4 linked regions of the Homo sapiens genome follow. The protein of the gene in region 4 purifies or fractionates together with the protein of the main gene of each other region. This does not show direct contact. Each region holds a gene or a part of one and is shown on either strand. Other genes may lie near its edges.

Region 1 (5,368 bases), on a different chromosome or scaffold from region 4:
ATTACATGTCTCAAATGTGCTTTCACTAGCCAGAACCATTTACAATCTTTTCAACTATATGTCGCATCAGGTTTTTAGAATGCCCACCAATTCGGTAATATTGGTTAGTTATGACTTACTATGAGGTAGATGTTGCCAAGTACTTTTGGGGATATAAAAAATGAACAGGCCAGGTGTGGTGGCTCACACCTGTAATCCCAGCACTTTGGGAAATTGAGGTAGGAGGATTGCTTGAGGCCAGGACTTCAAAATCAGCCTGGGCAAGATTGTGAGACCCCATCTCTACAAAAAAAATTTTTTTTAATTAAAACAAAACAAAAAACAGGATTTTAGTCCCCGCAAGTTTAATATAAGAGATAAGGCAGTCTTTCCAAACTTGTTGTAGACATGTACACAAATATACTAAGTGCTATGAAGTATAGCTGAGAGCACTCCAACTGAGAATGGCTTCCCAAGGGAGGTAGCAGGGCATACGCTGGGGCCTAAAGGGGTTACTCATGTGCGGATGGGGATGGCATGAACAAAAGCACAGAGGAAAACACCAAGAAGGTCTGATTTGGTTGAAGCAAAAAGAACGGGAAGGGGAATAGAGGGAAATAAAAGAAAAGTAGGCCAGATGTGGTGGCTCACACCTATAATCCCAACTTTTGGGAGACTGAGATGAGAGGATTGCTTGAGCCCAGGAGTTGGAGACAAGCCTGGGCAACATAGTGAGTGAGACCCTGTCTCTATAAGATAATTTTTAAAAGCCCAGAAAAGTAAACTGGGACCAGATCATAGAGATCCTGAATGCCAGGTTAATGAGTTTGGCCTTTATTTTGTAAGTAATGAGTTAGCCACTGAAGGTTTTTTTGTTTTGTTTTGTTTTGTTTTTGTTTTACAGAGCAGTAACATGTTCAAAACATGATTATGACAGTGAGAGGTAGATTGAAGTAGAGAGAATGGAAGTTAATTTTACTCATACACTTTACCACCAAAAGCAATTCTCATTTGAATTGGCCAGAAGTATCATGAAAATCACCCTTTGCTTTTAAAGTATTTATCGGGGAGTAATAATCCCTAAATTTTAAATCTACTCTGGCCTTGCGTGACTAGAATGAGATTTCATGCACTAGAACTAATGGCCACATTTTTGTTAAGTTAAAATAAAACAAAGTGACTGTAAGAGTAAGAGAATCTTACCTTGAACGTGGCGAAATCCCATCTCTACTAAGAATACAAAAATCAGCTGGGCGCGGTGGCACATGCCTGTAATCCCAGCTATTGGGGAGGCTGAGGCATGAGGATTGCTTGAACCCAGGAGGCAGAGGTTGCAGTGAGCTGAGATTGCACCACTGCACTCCAGCCTGGGAGACAGAGTGAGCCTGTCTAAAAAAAAAAAAAAAAAAAAAAAAAAAAAAAAAAAAAAAAGAATCTTACCTTGAACATGTCCACCCAGATCAAAAGTTGTAAACGTCATGCCAGCAATGGTCAGTTCTTCGGAAGCTAAATAAGATTTTAAAATATTTTTACATGAAAATTAGAAACCCATTAATCGTGTAAAAAGTAAAGTAGAGGTTCCTTTTCAAAGACTTTCCTCCCCATCTAATTAAGAATAAATAGTAACTTCTCTTAGAAGCAAAATTGATTCAAAGACCCGTGCTAACATTCTTAAATATCTGCCAGCCGTAATAAAGAAATCAATGTACTTTATGTTCTTAGCTCCCACAATTTAGCCTAAATATTTGCCCTGGCATACTTACACTGGTCCAAGCAAGCATTAGGTCATAGCCTGTTCCTCTTCCTTATTTGAAGGTGTTTTTACCTTTCTCAGCATTCCACAAGTTACTTCCTCCTTCCTTTGTTCTCCTCTGCCTTTGCCTCTTTTAAAAAGTTCTAAGTTGCTAGCCAATCAGGACAAATACAGAATGTGAGGTCCCATTCCAGCCAATGGAAACCGGACACAGCAGTAGGGTGGACGCATCAGATTATAAATGACCCTGTCTCCTTTGTTCGGTGTACTCTTGTGGCAAAACTGCTGGCAAGTGTACCCTTTCTGCAGAAAGTAAAAATGGCCTTGCTGAGGAAATTAAATTTATGTTCAAGTGCTATCCTTTACAGCACCAGGGAACAAGCATTTCTAACAATAGCTTATATTTACTACTTAATGTTTGATTTACTTTTATTGCAAATAAGGTCAAATCAAACATTTACAAACTGGTACAATAATACTTTTTTGTAATTAGATATACACCAATTCATACTGACAATATAACAAATAATTGTAATATTCAGTTCTAGTATTCTACTCACCACAAATCCAACATTTATTTTTCCTTCTCTATTCTTCCTGCTGAAAATGTTAATCTCTTCAGACAATTATTTGCTATGAATTCAAATAACTGCTCCAATCTAATAATTGTTCATATAATTCATCTTAAATGATACAGGTGAAATAATTTTCTCTTATGGCTGACATAAGACAGTCTTTAATTACAAAAACAATTACCATAAAAAATTGTGGCCATTATTTCCATAACTATCTTTCTTTCTCCTCCCTTCCACTTCTGGGACTTCAGTTGCAGGTTTGTTAGACTGCCTGATGTTGTCTCACCAGTCATTGAGGCTCTGTTTATTTTGCTTTCAGTCACTTTTCTCTCTGTGCTTCATTCTGGAGTTTCTGTTGCATTGAGTTAAGTTTAGTGGTCTTTCTTTCTGCAGTACTGGCACTATCTAATTTACTATTAATCCTATCCAGTGAAATTTCCATTTCAGGCTGGGCATGGTAGCTCACACCTGTAAGCCCAGACTTTGGGAGGCCAAGGTGGGAGAATCACTTGAGCCCAGGAGTTCGAGACCAGCCTGGGCAACCCAGGGAGACCCTGTCTCTATTAAAAAAAAGAAAGAAAGAAAAAAAAGAAATTTTCATTTCAAATACTGTATTTTTCATTTCTAGAAGTTTCATTTGATTCTGTGTTATATCTTCCATTTCTTTCCTCATGTTTGTGTTTTCCTTTAAATCCCTGAGCACATTCATAACGATTGTCTTATGTCTTAATCTGCTAATTCCATCATCTTTGTCACACTTGTGTCTGTTTCTACTGACTGAATCACTTTCCTGTTTCTTTGCATGTCTAGTAATTTCATATTGAGTGCTGGATTTTGTTGTAGTCTTTTGAAGAAGGTTGAATTTTGTTCTGACAGTTCACTTGCTTACAGATCAGTTTTTAACATTTGTTAGAAGGCTAAATGGGATTAAACAACAATTCCTGGCCCCATGAGAGCTCTAGTAATTATTTGGCTAACAGCATTCTTACAATTGTTCTTTGACTAGCCTTTTGGAGCTTTACCCATTGCATGCACAGATTGGTATTCAGCTATGTAAATTTCTAGAGTCCTTTCTCTCCAGAGGTCCCTCCTCTCCGGTACTCCCTCCTCTCTGTCCTAGCAAAAAAATTCTAGTCCTGTTGGCCTTTCCAAATTCTGGTCTACATCTCCTCAACTCAGCAAGACTATTGGACTATGTTTGGGTGTCCTCTCTTTGCACCATGGTCTGAAAATTACCTCTTGGCATAAAACCAAAATAGAGTTGTTTCCTTTCTCTCAGGAATCACAGTCCTGTGGTAGCTGTTGCCCAATGTCTGAAAACAGTTGTAGCATCTTTTTTTGTCCGGTTTTCTAGTTGTGTACAGTGGGAGGGTAATTCCAGAACCAGTACTCACTTATGGCCAAAAGCACAAGTGCCCCATAATGACAACATAAGTTTTAGTGTAGCTACTTTAGCCCAGAGTTTTTATCTTCTTAAGAAATTCTGGGGGCCGGGCGCGGTGGCTCACGCCTGTAATCCCAGCACTTTGGGAGGCCGAGATGGGCAGATCACGAGGTCAGGAGATCGAGACCATCCTGGCTAACGAGGTGAAACCCCGTCTCTACTAAAAATACAAAAAATTAGCTGGGTGCAGCGGCAGGTGCCTGAAATCCCAGCTACCAGGGAGGCTGAGGCAGGAGAATCGCTTGAACCCTGGCGGCAGAGGTTGCAATGAGCCGAGATTGCCCCACTGCACTCCAGCCTGGGGAACAGAGCGAGACTCCATCTCAAAAAAAAAAAAAAAAAATTACCCAGGCATGGTGGCAGGTGCCTGTAATCCCAGCTACTCAGGAGGCTGAGGCAGGAGAATCACTTGAACCCAGGAGGCGGAGGTTGCAGTGAGCCGAGATTGCGCCATTGCACTCCAGCCTGGGCAACAGAGAGAGATTCTGTCTGAAAATAAGAAGAAATTCTGGGCCGGGGGCGGTGGCTCACGCCTGTAATCCCAGCACTTTGGGAGGCTGAGGCGGGTGGGTCACGAGGTCAGGAGATCGAGACCATCCTGGCTAACACGGTGAAACCCCGTCTCTACTAAAAAAATACAAAAAATTAGCTGGGCGTGGTGGCAGGCGCCTGTAGTCCCAGCTACTCAGGAGGCTGAGGCAGGAGAATGGCATGAACGCGGGAGGCGGAGCTTGCAGTGAGCCGAGATTGCACCACTGCACTCTAGCCTGGGCGACAGAGCAAGACTCCGTCTCAAAAAATAACAATAATAAATAAAGAAATTCTGTATGTAGGCCAGGTGCAGTGGCTCATGCCTCTAATCCCAGCACTTCGGGAGGCCGAGGCGGGTGGATCACTTGAGACATCAGGAGTTCTGAGACCAGCCTGGCCAATGTGGTGAAACCCCGTCTCTACTAAAAATACAAAAATTAGCCAGGCGTGGTGGCAGATGCCTGTAATCCTAGCTACTAGGGAAGCTGAGACAGGAGAATGTGGCAGGCGGAGGTTGCAGTGAGCCGAGACTGGCCACTGCACTCCAGCCTGGGCAACAGAGCGAGACTCCATCTCGGAAAAAAAAAAAAAAAAAAAAGGGCAGGGCACACGGTGGCTCATGCCTGTAATCCCAGCACTTTGGAAGGCCGAGGGGGGCGGATCACCTGAGGTGAGGAGTTCGAGACCATCCTGGCAAACATGGTGAAATCCCGTCTCTACTAAAAATACAAAAATTAGCCGGGAGTGGTGGTAGGCTCCTGTAATCCCAGCTACTCGAGAGGCTGAGGCAAGAGAATCGCTTGAACCCGGGAGGTGGAGGTTGCAGTGAGCTGAGATCATACCATTGCACTCCAGCCTGGGGGACAAGAGCGAGACTTTGTCTCAAAAAAAAAAAAAAAAGAAAGAAAGAAATTCTATGTGTAGATTGCCAAATGAATAAAATATTTAATACAATCTATATTCAAAGTCACTGTTCATAAGGAAAAGATAATGCTTAGTTAGCAAACCACCTCTATGGTAATAATCCCCAATATACTTTCTGCTTTATAAAAGAAGTCTGAATTAGGCTATTTAAGATACAGAACA
Region 2 (5,368 bases), on a different chromosome or scaffold from region 4:
AATTAGTGCATATACATTATTGGCCTTTTGGTGTGCTTGACTATCAGAGCAAAAAGTATTAGAATTACTTTTCCCTCAAGGGGAAATCTTAAAGACTTCTTAAAGAAAAATTTAAGGAAATTCAGGCTATTTGAATCCAATGAAATTTTGTTTTTATTATATTATTTATAACTGTATATGCTGATAGTGTCCTAGCACTGACATAAAAATCCCATTAGCTAAGTTTAATTTTACCTTTATTTTGTGGAAGACAGTCATTCATAATTTGCTGATGACAAAACTCCAAGACACAAAATAGGTTACAGAAATGTTTAATGTTGCCTCGCCACTTTATGGACTCGCTTAGTTTACCCTGTCGTTTACAACCATCACACTTGGCCATCTGAAAAAGAAATGTTAGACAAGATAGGCTTAAAACTATAAAATAATGAAAAGATAACATTAATCATAAAAAGAGGGACTACGAAAACAGGATATATGAGTCAGTTGAGACTACAAAATGTAAGGTTCTTACCTTAAAATACTGATTTTATTTAATTATTTGTTTTATATAGATGCCCTAAATCAAGATAATATAAAAACTGTGGCCAGGCACGGTAATTGTGGGATCACGCCTGTAATCCCAGCATTTTAGGAGGCCGAGGTGGGCGGATCATGAGGTCAGGAGTTCAAGACCAGCCTGACCAACATGGTGAAACCCCGTATCTACTAAAGTACAAAAATTAGCCAGGTGTGGTGGCGCACGCCTGTAATCCCAGCTACTTAGAAGGCTGAGGTAAGATAATCGCTTGAATCCAGGAGGCAGAGGTTGCAGTGAGCCGAGATCGCGTCACTGCACTCCAGCCTGGGTGACAGAGTAAGACTCTGTCTCAATAGAAAAAAAAAAAAATGCTCTTCTGTTTTCAAAATTACCAATAAGGGAATCTATCTAAAGATAGGTTCATAACTGGGCATGGTGGTGCCCACCTCTCCTGGTTACTCGGGAGGCTGAGGCAGGAGAATCACTTGAACCCAGGAGGCAGAGGCTACAGGGAGCCAACATCGCCCACTGATCACGCCACTGCACACCAGCCTGAGCAATAGAACAAGATTCTGTCTGGCTGGGGGATGGGGGGTGGGCAGGTGGGATGGGGGAAGAAAAGATACACAATGAAAAAAGTAAGTAAAAAAAAAATAAAGATAGGTTCAACTTCTAAAAAATTAAGCAGCAGCTTACAGTAGTTGATATAATATGGGCTTTGGAGTCATAAAGATTTTGATTCATTCAGCAAATATTTAATTAGACATCCTTTGTCTTAAGCACTGTGATTGGCCCTAATTATATAATCATGAAAAATATATTACCCTCCCCCAACAATAAAATTCTATTTTTTTAGAGGTAGAAAAACAAACAGTGATTTACCAGAGTGTTATAGATGCTGTCTTGCTGTCACCTACCAGCTTCCTCAAGAGCATATTACTTAACTTCCCTGGACCTCTCTCCTTTTCCTTATTTATAAAATGGCAGTAATATACTTACCTCTTGGGACTATGGTAAGGATTAAATGAAATGACACTTACAGAGCACCAGACATGTATTAGTGGTTCAATTAACTGTAGCTACCATTGTTAGCCTTTCAAAAAGTTAATCTTTTTAAAAATGAGGTAGGAATGGTTGCCAGCTATTGTCCTTTGACCTATGAAGTGAGACAAGGTCTAACTTCAAATTCCTCAGAGTAACCTGAATGAGAGAGCCACTTCAGGCAACATTATGTGAAGTTCTAACCTGAAAGAAGTCAAATAAGGGCAAAGTGCCTCATAAGAAGGCAAAAATAAAAGGAACATATCCAACCAACAACAAAGTCTGCAGAAATCCTATACTTTTTATCCCAAAGATTTCCTGTTTATATTCAATTGAATTTTTCTATTATAGCCCATAACTTATTTTATCCAGTGCTAAACACCAAATTTTTCTTCACATAATTTGAATACATTTTAAATAAAAACAATTTGCACTGATTTCAGAAAGCCAAAAAAAGTATATTATCACATTTACCTGATAAAACAGAACTGTAAATTTGGACATACAATCTTCACAACAAAACTCTTCTAACTTGCCCTCCAATCGATTTTCTACCAAATTTGGGGATGTCTGTGAACAGTAGCTGCACATCTTACAGTAGTTTCCCCATCGTTCTCCAAAGTCACGGGCAGAGAGGAATTTGCAAACTGAGGATCAGAGGGATGAAAGGAAGAAAAATCAAATTTACATTAACTGAGGAGGTATAATAAGTTTCTGTGGTCTTAGATATGAAACTTTAAGCTAATTTCTAATACACAATTATTTGCCTCTAGATTACAGGACAGTCTCTATATTCACAAACCAAACTCATACCACCTTTTATTTTATTTTATTTTTTGAGACAGAGTCTCACTCGTTTTGCCCAGGCTGGAGTGCAGTGGCACAATCTCAGCTCACTGCAACCTCTGCCTCCCAGGTTCAAACGATTCTCCTGCCTCAGCCTCCTGAGTAGAGCAGCTGGGATTACAGGTACCTGCCACCACACCCAGCTAATTTTTGTATTTTTAGTAGAGATGGCATTTCGCCATGTTGGCCAGGCTGGTCTCAAACTCCTGACCTCAGGTGATCTGGCTCGCCTTGGCCTCCCAAAGTGCTGGGAATACAGGCGTGAGCCACTGCGCCCTGCCACCACCTTTTAAATATACTCTAAATATTAGGCCATTTATATTCAGAAACATTAGAGGTATAAAAGTTTTTTAAGCCAAGAAGCAGCAACTGTTTTAAGTTCCTCTTCGCAAATGAGTGCAAGAACAAAAAGATCTCTGATGTCATAGCTAAACTTATGAAGAGATTTTCTTTATTAATACCACTGATGTAATCATTTTTACAGTTTTTTATTGCAATTACTGCAACATTTAAAAAGACTGACTTTCAGCCAGGCACAGTCGCTCACGCCTATAATCCCAGCACTTTGGGAGGCCGAGGCAGGAGTACCACCTGAGCTCAGGAGTTCAAGACCAGCCTGGGAAACATGGTGAAACCCCCCGTCTCTACCAAAAATAAAAAAAATTAGCCAGGCATGGTGGCACGCTCCTGTAGCTTCAGCTACTTGGGAGGCTGAAGTGGGAGGATCCCTTAAACCGGGGAGGCAGAGACTGCAATAAGCCAAGATCATGCCACCACACTCCAGCCTGAGTGACAGGGCAAGACCTTGTCTCAAAAAAATAAACAAACAAAAATAATAAATAAAAAGATTGACTTTAAAGTGAATTAACTATAAACACAATTCAAAAAAACCTTTTTTTTTTTGGAGACAAGAGTTTCGCTCGTCGCCCAGGCTGCAGTGCAATGGCATGATCTCAGCTCACTGCAACCTCTGCCTCTGAGGTTCATGCAATTCTCCTGCCTCAGGCTCCCAAGTAGCTGGGATTACAGGCGTGCGGCACCATGCCCGGCTAATTTTGTATAGAGACGGTGTTTTTTAACAGAGATGGGGTTTCACCATGTTGGTCAGGCTGGTCTTGAACTCCCAACCTCAAGTGATCCACCCACCTCAGCCTCCCAAAATGCTGGGATTACAGGCGTGAGCCTCCATGCCCGGCCTCCAAAATACTTCTAATTACACCTTGTAAGACAAAAAGAATGTGAAAACTAATCATGGCTTAATTGCCCAAGTCGTCATGAATTATAACAACCCATGCTCTGTGAATAAAACAACTTTGTCTTTACCTTCACTACAGAATGGCTTATCAACCCCTGAGAATCGCACAGTCTCCTTTATAATTTTCTGCAGTTTACAGTAGTCACACATTGCCACAACTTTATTTTTCTTCTTGTATTCATCAGAGCAATTCTTGCCACAAAACAGAAACATTTTACCCTGCAGAGAAACAACAGTCCATTAAGAGCCAACTAAACAGTTGCTTTATCTTTAAGAACTCCTTTTCATGTCAAAGCAAATTGAGTGATCAAAATTGAAAACACAAAAGTGTTTCTACTGGATGAGTTTATATACAATCCCTTTCATGATCTCTCTTTACCTTGTAAAAAAGAAGTTCTGGTTTTGTGGCAAATAGATGGTTACAGTGCTGACACTTGAGTTTAACAACTGTATGGGTTAAAGCAACTTGCTGGGATTGTTCAGCAAGAGGTTGGAGGCTGGCTGCAGCAGAGCCACGGATGGAGCTGGGGGAAACGGCAGAGGTGTTACCTCCTCCTATTGACACTGCTGACCTGGAGGAGGGCGGGCTTACAACCACTTGGCCCTGAGACAGGGGCACCGCCGAAGAGTTTGTTCCTTTTGGCTTGCTAAATACATTCTGAATGAAAACAAATAAGGTAAAGATTTTATCAACTGAGAAATAAGATAACTTTGTACTTTTCATTTCCTCATTTTAATAAATCAAGTCTCCCACAAACATTTTTTAAAATTTTCTATCTCACAGAAAGAGTTTAAATGGTATATTTCCAGAATAAAAGGACTGAGAAATACAACATTAAAAGGTCAAGGACTGGAATTCAGGCTTTCCTGACAAAGACCTCCAGTATATGCCTCTAATAAATTAGAGCAGGCCTCTCCTTCCCCCTAAAACTTCCCCCTACCTGCACTCCCATCATCAACCAGCTTCTGATGGCTACTACGACACAATAGCTACCAGCAGTCTCTTTCTCCCTAATGCCAGGGATACTACATCAGGCATGTTCCTACCCTGGAGATTACTAAACTCTACTCTTTGTGTATGTATTGCAGAGAGGGAGGAGAAAATGGGACAAGTGGATGCTTACAATTCCATGCCAGGAGTCACTGTGTTTCTGACACAGGATGAGAGGAAGGGGTATGTGAATCCCATCAGGCTACTGTTCTTCACCATACCACCTACCCAAACCACAATCCTAGCTTCCATCTTTTTGAAGGGGAGAGACCCAAGGGAGAAAGTGGGAGGGAATGACAGTTTAGGCTAGGATCCTAAATAAAGAAGAAACTGCTGAGACCCAATATCTGGGTTCAGATATTTTGTAGAAATGACCTGGTTGGGCCCCTGGATGAAACAAATTTTTTTCTTTTTAATTCAAATTTAAACTTTCATAAGAACAGGCCTTCAGCAGTTAACACTGTGCCACAGATCGATGCCTAACAGAACCACATGCATAATGTGCTACCTTAGATCATACCTGGAAAGCAACCACACAACTGGAGCTGCAGAAGCTGTATATAGTTCCATTTGACATGGCTAGGTGATACTGAGGGATTGCTGAGGTTTTACAACTATGACATGAAACCTGGACACCTTGGTGACAAAAAATTAAAAACAATGATTAAGTTATACCAATGAACAAACAATACAAAAATGTATTGGGAGAATGAAA
Region 3 (5,368 bases), on a different chromosome or scaffold from region 4:
TATCTTGGGCCATCTTTCCCATGCTAATTCCTATTTGTGTTTGCCTGTATCTATCTTGTCTCTAAAAAGAGAATGTTCTTAAATTGTGGGAAATGTTGTGAATTCATAGAGCCCCAGATTTATTTGTTGCCTTGGAGATTATTATGATTAACACCAAAAAGCTAGCTGATACCACAAAATGTAAAGGAAGTTTGGTTTACCTAATGTGTAAGTGAAAAGAGATAGACAAGAAAGCATGTGGTTGTTGCAGTAAATGCTGCTTTGTGGTCTGATCCCATTTTCACTTGCCCTCCATGTCTTCTCACTTTGCAGCTGGTGCATTGCAGTGGTCAGTCTCCTCACTGCTCTTCCTGCTTTGTTGCCCCTCCATTCCTGGGACATTGCACATTGCCACTGGAGCTAACTTACTTCAGAGCACTTACTGATCACGTAGCTCCTTGCCCAGTCTTCCTTGGCTCACAGCCAGGAAGGGGACTCATGACTGTTTAGTGTTGCAAGACCCTGGACTTAAGACTGCTTCTCCAATTTCCAAACCTACTGGACACTTTTAAAATTTTTCAAATAGGCCATGCTGTATCATGCCTTTTCTTTTTGTACCTGCTATATTCTGTTAAAAAATGCTGTCACTGTCCCTCCCATTGCCTCAGAAACGCTGTATGTCATGTTCTGTAGTGTGTTGATAGAGAAGGGTTTGATTTGGATTAATGAGGGGCTTTCATCCAAAATATAGGAGCTAATCATATATTCTCTATTACAGAGGCGTACTTTTCTACTGAGCAGTTCTCCAGAGACACCTTAGCCACTATTTTGCCCACCACTGTGATAGCTTTTGGTGGGAGGATCAGTTTGAATGTGTGTAACTGATATCTTCAGCACATGAGTACTTTAGCAGTGTTTTGATTAGATCTTTTCTGAAGCTGTATTCATCTCATTTTTTTGCTGCTTTCTAATTTTGCGAGTACCCTGGCATGGGAATAGGAAAAAGGGGGTGGGTAGTGGCAAATTTCTGAAGAGAAATATGTCATCTCTCCTTTTTTGCCCCCGCTAACAAAAGTCGAATTGGGAGCTTTTGTGTGTTTTCTTTTTGTTTTTTGGTTGGTTTTGTTTAACCCTTTACCTTGTGTCCCCAAACTTGGGACAGTATACTTTCTTTTGCCCCTTACTACAGGTGAACCTTCCTAAAAGATTTTTTCTTTTTATTCTCCGTAAAACATTTAAAGCATTCTTTAATGAAATAGTTTTTTAAGCAGGTTGTGTAATGTTTTCCATGTAACAGATTGGTTTATATATAGTTTGGCTGCTTCTTGCTAATAATGAAGGGTTTTCTCTCCTGATATTGTCTGAGAATCTATCATAGATGAGGTTAGATTGCCTTTGGAAAGATGCTTCTAGTTAATTCCTGTCCTATATAATTAGTTGAATTCATCTGTGAAGGATGTGAATTTTTCTTTGATCTTTTTATTTCATGAGCAGCTTTGTGAGTACATTCTCAGGTCTAAAGTCCTCACCCTCTTCTCCTATTCCCCCAGGGCCCCCAGTGAAACACACACATACATTAAACAGTGCAGTTTGTTATTTCAGGCCTTTTTCTTTGCATTTATGAAAGTAGGTCGGCATGCTGCCTCACACCTGTAATTCCAGCACTTTGGGAGGCCAAGGTGCGTGGATTACTTGAGCCCAGGAGCTCGAGACCAGCCTGGCCAACATGATGAAACCACGTCTCTGCTAAAAATACAAAAATTAGCCAGGCATGGTGGCACGTGCCTTTAATCCCGGCTACCCGGGAGGCTGAGGCATGGGAATCACTTGAACCCAGGAGGTAGAGGTTGCAGTGAGCTGAGATTACACCACTGCACTCCAGCCTGGGTAACAGAGTGACTGTTTCATTTAAAAAAAAAAAAAAAAAAGTAAATGTGTACACAAATATTTCTTTGTAGCTTTTGCCAACTTTACCTTTCTCCTTTCTTTCTGAGGGTGAGGTAGGAAATCACATGCAGAGTGAGTGTGGAAAGAGAATAAATAACCACGTGTTCCAAGGATCTTAAAAATTTGCACCAAGATGTGTGTCAAAACCAACAACATTGTACGAGGTGCAATCTCATGTTTTCTGCCAGCTGACCAATATTTCTTGCTCTGTTTCCTCAGATCAATGTAACCACTGTGCGGGAATATCTGCCAGAAGGAGACTTTTCAATAATGACAGAGATGCTCAAAAAATTTTTGAGTTTTATGAATCTCACTGTAAGTAGCTTTTATTACAGCTTATATGATTTTAAATTTATAATACATTGACAGTAGACATAAAAATACTATGGCCATAGTAAGTGGGAGCAAAAAGGGATTTTCTTTTAATTTTAATAATCGTGTTCTATTTCTTCAAGGTAATCATTGCATGTTATGGCAAATAACTTTATCAAACCCACAATTTAATCTCGGTGTACTTTGATTTGTAGTGTTCAGTTTAGTAAATCTAGAGGTAAACTTTTATTTATACTTCTTAAAATCTGTTAAATATTAACTGTTACTTCCTTTCCCCTTCACCCTGCTTTCAGTGTGCTGTTGGAACAACTGGCCAGAAATCTATCTCTAGAGTGATTGAATATTTGGAACATTGCTAGCTGCTTTACCTTTGCTTCAGGTGCTCGGTAATGCTGGAGCTATCCTTAGACAAAGAAAAGTCAAGTCATGAAAGAAGTCCTTGAAGATATACCAAGAACATTCATCAGTATCATTCGTGTTTGGATTTTTAAGGCCACCTGATTTCTTCGTCATGCATTCGGCATTTGCTAAATGACAGTTACTACATCAATCTGCAACTATCAAAAATGAGGGGAAAAGGTTCAGGCTGTTAACAATTCCATGCAGTATTTAAATACATTTACTTTGGCAGAGTTTATACCCTCCCCTTGTTTTCTTGCTTTATTCTGGGCAAGTTTGAAGGGGAAAATTTGTGCTGCTGTTAGTGCAACTGCTGTGTATGTTGAGCCACTGTTGTCATGCCAGCCAGGTGCAAAGGCAGCTTAGCTACTGAGGTAGCGAATGTTCTGAGGACATTCTAGACAACAGCTTAGTTCCTTTTTCAGGCTCATTTGCTTTTGCTTTTTTGTTGAATGATTCCAATCGTAAATAAAGCTTTTAATAATTTTGTGAATTTTTTGGTTGTTGTTCCCTGAACTACTGTCTATATTTAAAATTAGATGGAATCCAAAGATACACGGGATTAATAGTATATTTTTTTATTCTTGATTAGGTTTGGGTTATTGAACTATTTTTTACTTTTGAGACCACAACCATATTCAATATCATACCATAATGTGTCATAGCTATAGGCACAAGAAAAACAACAGTTTGAGAGAATATTATATAAGATGATGTGCCCTGTTAAAAGGAGGAGGCAAAATAGTCAAACCCAGGGTAGTTTACACTTAATGCTAGGGAGGCTCTTAAAACATTATTAGATTTTGAGGAAAGACTCTCTAGATATATTTTCTAATGTTCAGTACAATAAATATAAGGAAGCTAAAACACCAATGTGGAATTCCTGTTTCCAGATAACATGTATATTCTTCTATAGAGTGACAGGATCAATTGCATAAGCGCAAAGCCTTAAATTGCTGGTTTAGAGAAGACCCTTTTTTCATTCAGATTCTTTGTTCGTAGAGCAGTTATTTGAAAAACAGTTATGGAACACAAAACATTTTATAGATTTAATATCATAACATTGCAAATTTTTCTTGTATTATTCACACCACTGGTTATACTTTTTTTTTTCCTTTTTTATTGATTGGGCCTGAATACAGGCTTTCTAGAGATCTTTTTCATTAATACTTTTAAATACCTTTCAGGTAGTTACATCATGTTTCTTCATTGGATTTGTAAAACTTGAAGCCATAAAAATATTAGTTTGGTGTGTATTGGGGAAAATAGCTAAAAGTCTAATTTTTACCCATTTAGACTTTGTTATTTCCTTGTATAAAGTGACAAATCGGGGCTCTTGTATCAGTGCCAGCTGTAATGTTTTTAAATGCAGTGGCTGCCTTCTATTGTCTTCCTATTTTTGATAATGCAGATTGTTGGGAAATCTGTAAGGAAGTAACTGATTCCAGGCAAATTGTTTTCTTCCTTCTACCCACCCCAACCCCTACCCATCACCTTTTAAGAACATAGTACGCCAGTGTAACGTGGGAACCATTGAGATTGTATTTGCCCTGAGTATTAAAGCTAGCTTAGCAAAATACTTTTAAAAACATATTGGTAAATGATACCCGTAAAATTAAATTAGTTATATTTTATTTTAAAATGCAAAATACATTGATATTTATTAATCATTGGATTTAGGGAAAGGGACAGATTTTTGGTGAACCTGACTTGTGGCAGATGGTAAGGAATATTATAAAACATTTGGATGAGAACAATCAGGGCGAACTGCATTTTTCTGTTACACTGGTAATCATTTGAAAATTGATTTACCTCAGTGTTTAACAGTTTTTTGTTTTGTTTTGTTTTTTAAATAATAACTAATTGTCGAGCACTGATAGAGATGCAGATTTTGGTGGGGGGAGGTGGTGGGGGAGATAATCACTTCACCAACTGCAGTGCATTTGTGTGTTTTTAACCCTCAGAGAACTCTGCATTTTAGGGTACTTGAGGCTGACTTAACTAAAAGTTTTAAAGTAACCTTTTTTCCATTGTAAATATTTCTGTAAATACTACCAATTGGAAATTAGAACAGTAGAGTACTTTTCTGAATCCAATCCTATTTTTATTTTATACAGTATTTCTCAGCTGTGATCTTTGGAGCAAAAGCCAACGGCAGGAAAAAATAGTTTGTACCAGTTTCATGAAGTATGTCTTTGGGTTTTTGTAAATAATTTTAACTCAAATAAAATTGCTACTTTCAATACACATGTTGTCTTTAACATAAGTCTATTGGAGGACAGAAGTGTCACAAACTTTATATATAGCCGACTCTAATGGGAAATACACTATCACTTAACACATTTAACCAGTTTTTGTTAAATATTTTATTATTTCTCCATGTTTTTAATAATACTCATCTGAATATAATGTGAACTCAACAACTCAGGCCAATTAGGGACTGGATTTTCAGTTAGGCCCTTGGCATACTTAACTGTTTTGATTTAGGTTATTTTTTGCTCCTATGAGTATGATCCAAGACATCTTTGCTTCTGAGGTTTTACACTGCTTTTTAGTTTTTCAGTTTTCTTCTTAATTGTCAGCCCTTAGGCATCCTGCATTTACAAGTAGATTCCTCAACTTCTCCTTACTGCTTTTAGCCACAAAACTAGATTGAAGGATCTCTCCTGGGAGTTTCCATTACTCTCCCCACTTAAACATGAGTAAGAGT
Region 4 (3,791 bases):
AAGCAGACCTAGACTGAAATTATGTAAGTAGTTCTAAATTTTTGCTATGAGGAATAATTTAAGAATGATCTTGGGCTCATAGAAGGAAAAATATATATATGTAAAGACTATTACTCCCTAATGCTCGTGTATATTAACATAATGTTTTTCCTCATCATCAGCAAGGATTAAATTGCCTCATTCTTTCTAGGTTTTTGCTTTTAGCTATTGCAAAAAATCTAAGCATCTGTGAAAAAAAAATGTAATTTTCCATAGGACGTAGTTTGAAGAAGGGTACATTAATAACAGTAACAGCAATCATTTCTTGAGAAAAACTAGAATCATACAAAAAGAGTAAGTCCTAGATCAAACAGTTATTGAAATATATCCAATGAAGGGATGTTCCACATGAATAACAAGAAAACGGGCATCCTTGCTTCATCTTCAATCCCAGTTCCAGTCCCAATTTCTCCATTAAAGCCTCTTATGCAGGGCTTTTTGTTTTCTTTTGTTTTGTTTTTAGAGACAGGGTCTCTGTCATCCAGGCTGGAGTGCAAGTGGCATAATCATAGCTCACTGCAGCCTTGAACTCCTGGACTCAAGCAATCCTCCCCCCACGGTAGAGCTCTAACTTTACTCTACATGCCATGATAAGCCACTTTTACTGATGAAAGTGTGTGGTGTCCTTCAGGCATACAAAAGCAGAAAACAGCATAGAGAAGCCCTCCTCCAGTATTTAGTCATATGTTGAGGCCTTTTATGTTGCTGTCTTGTCTCTTTTCTTTCTTTTCTTTTCTTTTCTCTTTTTCTTTTTCTTTCTTTCCCCTCCCCTCTCCTCCCCTGTCCTCCCCTCCCCCTCCTCTTCTCCTGTCTCTGTCTCCCTCTCTCTCTCTCTCCGCCTGCCCCCCAACCCCTGCCCCATAAATGCATGCTGGCCCTATCTGTATAACTTTCCTAAAGTATTTTGAGCATAGTGCTGTTTCTTCATTCACTCATTCTTCTACTCATTTATTAAATCAACAGTTATTTAATAATATTCTTCACCTCCTAGAAAAAGTAATGTATACACTCTGTGGGCTACATCTCATTCATCTTTGTACACTTAGCTCAAAAACTGATGCGAAGTAGAGAAATTTGTTGAATATATGAATAAGTAATGTGAAAGAAGTAATCATTACTAATAACATCATTTTAATCAAGCAAATGTCAAATCTCAGAACAAACCTAAGCTGCAAGTGAAATGACAGCATAATAAAACAGCTGGAAGGAAAGAAATCTACTCCCAGCTTTGCAAATGACTAGCCATATGACCTGGGGCAAGTCAGTTAACTGTTCAGCATCTCTCAATCTTAATCTATGGGTTGAAGAAGTTGGTCTGAATAATCTCCAAAGTCTCTTACAGTGCAAGAATTCTATAATGACACAATCAGTTAAGTTCTTCATTGAACACCTTGTGTGTTATCTCTATGAGGTACTGCTCTGGTGAGTTTATAATAAAGCTAGAATGAACAACACAGTGTGGTGTCTAAATCTATGATCAAAGGTACAAGGAATATTCAGAGAGGGAAGAGAAAGCTCCAAGGAGAAGGCCAGGAGCAGTAGCTCATGCCTGTAATTCCAGCACTTTGGGAGGTCAAGGCAGGAGGTGTCTGAGACCAGCCTGAACAACATAGTGAGACCCCTACCTCTACCAAAAAGAAAAGTTTGCATTGGTTCTGTGCCTATTTAAAAAAAAAAAAAAAAAGAAAGACAGTAAGTCTCAAGGAGAAAGCTATGTCTTAAAAGAAATGGAGAATTTGTTAACTGAAGGAAATCAGGATATTCCAACAAGGAATACAAGGTGAGCATGTTATATTTCCTCCCATCGCTGTAACACAACTGTGACTAATTTCCGTTAAGTCACCAAAACACCTTTAGAGGCCATGCGAGCAGTTCTTCCAACTATTCCCCAACACCCACATCCAGTTCTATTCACAAAGTCATGGAACCTTAGGAGATAACTGGTTGGGGAGGTAGATAGGGGGCCACCAAATATTACAGTTAGGGAATAGCACATAATAAGCACCCAACATGCCATTACCTCCATATATTTTTTGAGATCAGCCAGATTCATAACCATTCCCGTAGCAGGGTCAATCTAAAGAATAAACAAAGGTGAATATTACTGTGATAGGCTCTCCATATTAAACGGCTGGCAAATTATTAAAGGCAGTACAATGTGCAGAGACTGTGCCCACATTTGCACATTTGCCTTCATCCCAGAGATAATCATTGACCTCAGCATGGAAGCACCATGTACTTCAAGCATCCTTTTCATTGTATAGCCCTTCTACCTGTCCACATACAGCATATTAAAGACAACACTTTGGTAGAGGAGAGGCCTGGAATGGCGGCAGCTCACCACACACACATATACAAGGGCCAACAATGAAGCAATACTGACTGGAACAGTTTTCAACACAGAATCCACCACACTGGCTGAAAGAGAGCCCAGCAATCTGCAAAAACCACACAAATATTTTCTGCACATACCTCTCCATGTACTGTCACCACAACTATGGAAAGAAAACAAAATACAAAAAAAACAGCATGACTTTCAACAGATCAACATCCAAGCACAAGTTAGCAACATACAAGCACAAGTTGGCAACATAAATTATTAGATCTGTCCCCAAAAGCTATACTTAAATATTTACCCCAAAACATCTGTTATTTTAGTTAAGATTTTTTTTTTAGCAACCAAAGCAAGACACAATCGAGACAAAGGAGCTTAGTAGGAATGTTGGCTAAGCAGAGGCACTCGGCCAAGGCTGAAAAGGGTGTAAATTCTGCTTATGTTAATGCACTAGGGAGCATCAAGATGCTGCTCAGTCTCTGCCTGTAGAAGTAGAAAATGTCTTTCAGGTGTCCAGCTACACAGCAAGCTGGTCCAATACTGAGCAGTACCTTTCTGAACAAGCAATACTACTGGGCCTTAAATTCTTGTCCCCTTACTCACATGAATGTATACAAAGTCTAAAGTAATGCTTTGTAAATTAAAAAGTGCTTGTGAGAAGCATTTGAAAAATCTTGGCCAGGCGTGGTGGCTCAAGCCTGTAATCCCAGCACTTCGGGAGGCCGAGGCGGGCAGATCACCTGAGGTCTGGAGTTTGAGAGCAGCCTGGCCAACATGGTGAAACCCCATCTCTACTAAAAATACAAAAATTAGCCAGGCATAGTGGCGGGCGCCTGTAATCTCAGCTACTCGGGAGGCTGAGGCTGGAGAATCGCTCGAACCTGGGAGGTGGAGGTTGTAGTGACGGGAGATCACACCATTCCAGCCTGGGCAAAAAGAGTGGAACTCCATCTCAAAAAAAAAAACAACAACAACAAAAAAAAACTTTATCAGTGCTTTACACATTAATAACTTTTATGAATTTATGTATTTTAGTTCTGTACAAATACCATTAGATATTACATGTAAGTGAGTACACTGAGACTGAGATACCATAGATTAAGGAAGAGGCTGTAGCTAAACCAGTAATCCTAATCTCCTGACACCTTGTCTGTTTTTTTTTATGCCACCACACCACATACTGTTTTATACTCTACGACTTATGTACCTGTTTTTTAAGGCAGGCTGTACCTCAAAGAATCAAGTCTCTTATCCTTGAACAAATTACCTACTTTCTTCGAACACTGCTGGCAAAGCTTTAGACCAAACCTATTTTTCTGCCATACATTACATTCCTAGGCAACATTCCCCTTTTGTCAGTCATTATTTACTCAAAGAATAAAATCTAATTTTAACATTAGCCTTGGCCATACCTAAT

The links.
Region 1: the proteins of PTS (region 4) and SAR1B purify together in Homo sapiens (affinity purification with mass spectrometry; one large-scale study listed by BioGRID and IntAct). This does not show direct contact.
Region 2: the proteins of PTS (region 4) and ZMYM6 purify together in Homo sapiens (affinity purification with mass spectrometry; one large-scale study listed by BioGRID and IntAct). This does not show direct contact.
Region 3: the proteins of PTS (region 4) and WAPL purify together in Homo sapiens (affinity purification with mass spectrometry; one large-scale study listed by BioGRID and IntAct). This does not show direct contact.

What each region holds. Positions count from the first base shown.
Region 1 is NC_000005.10:134,611,272-134,616,639, forward strand, and holds part of SAR1B (small COPII coat GTPase SAR1B), read right to left. Parts: intron 1,762-5,368; exon of another isoform or gene 1,743-1,761; intron 1,486-1,742; coding exon 1,420-1,485; intron 1-1,419. UniProt on the Homo sapiens protein: Small GTPase that cycles between an active GTP-bound and an inactive GDP-bound state and mainly functions in vesicle-mediated endoplasmic reticulum (ER) to Golgi transport.
Region 2 is NC_000001.11:35,006,717-35,012,084, forward strand, and holds part of ZMYM6 (zinc finger MYM-type protein 6), read right to left. Parts: intron 5,290-5,368; coding exon 5,174-5,289; intron 4,321-5,173; coding exon 4,042-4,320; intron 3,882-4,041; coding exon 3,731-3,881; intron 2,209-3,730; coding exon 2,036-2,208; intron 383-2,035; coding exon 235-382; intron 1-234. UniProt on the Homo sapiens protein: Plays a role in the regulation of cell morphology and cytoskeletal organization.
Region 3 is NC_000010.11:86,434,793-86,440,160, reverse strand, and holds the end of WAPL (wings apart-like protein homolog), read left to right. Parts: intron 1-2,145; coding exon 2,146-2,241; intron 2,242-2,552; coding exon 2,553-2,618; 3' UTR 2,619-4,905; downstream 4,906-5,368. UniProt on the Homo sapiens protein: Regulator of sister chromatid cohesion in mitosis which negatively regulates cohesin association with chromatin. Involved in both sister chromatid cohesion during interphase and sister-chromatid resolution during early stages of mitosis.
Region 4 is NC_000011.10:112,228,951-112,232,741, reverse strand, and holds part of PTS (6-pyruvoyl tetrahydrobiopterin synthase), read right to left. Parts: intron 2,535-3,791; coding exon 2,512-2,534; intron 2,117-2,511; coding exon 2,060-2,116; intron 1-2,059. UniProt on the Homo sapiens protein: Involved in the biosynthesis of tetrahydrobiopterin, an essential cofactor of aromatic amino acid hydroxylases. Catalyzes the transformation of 7,8-dihydroneopterin triphosphate into 6-pyruvoyl tetrahydropterin.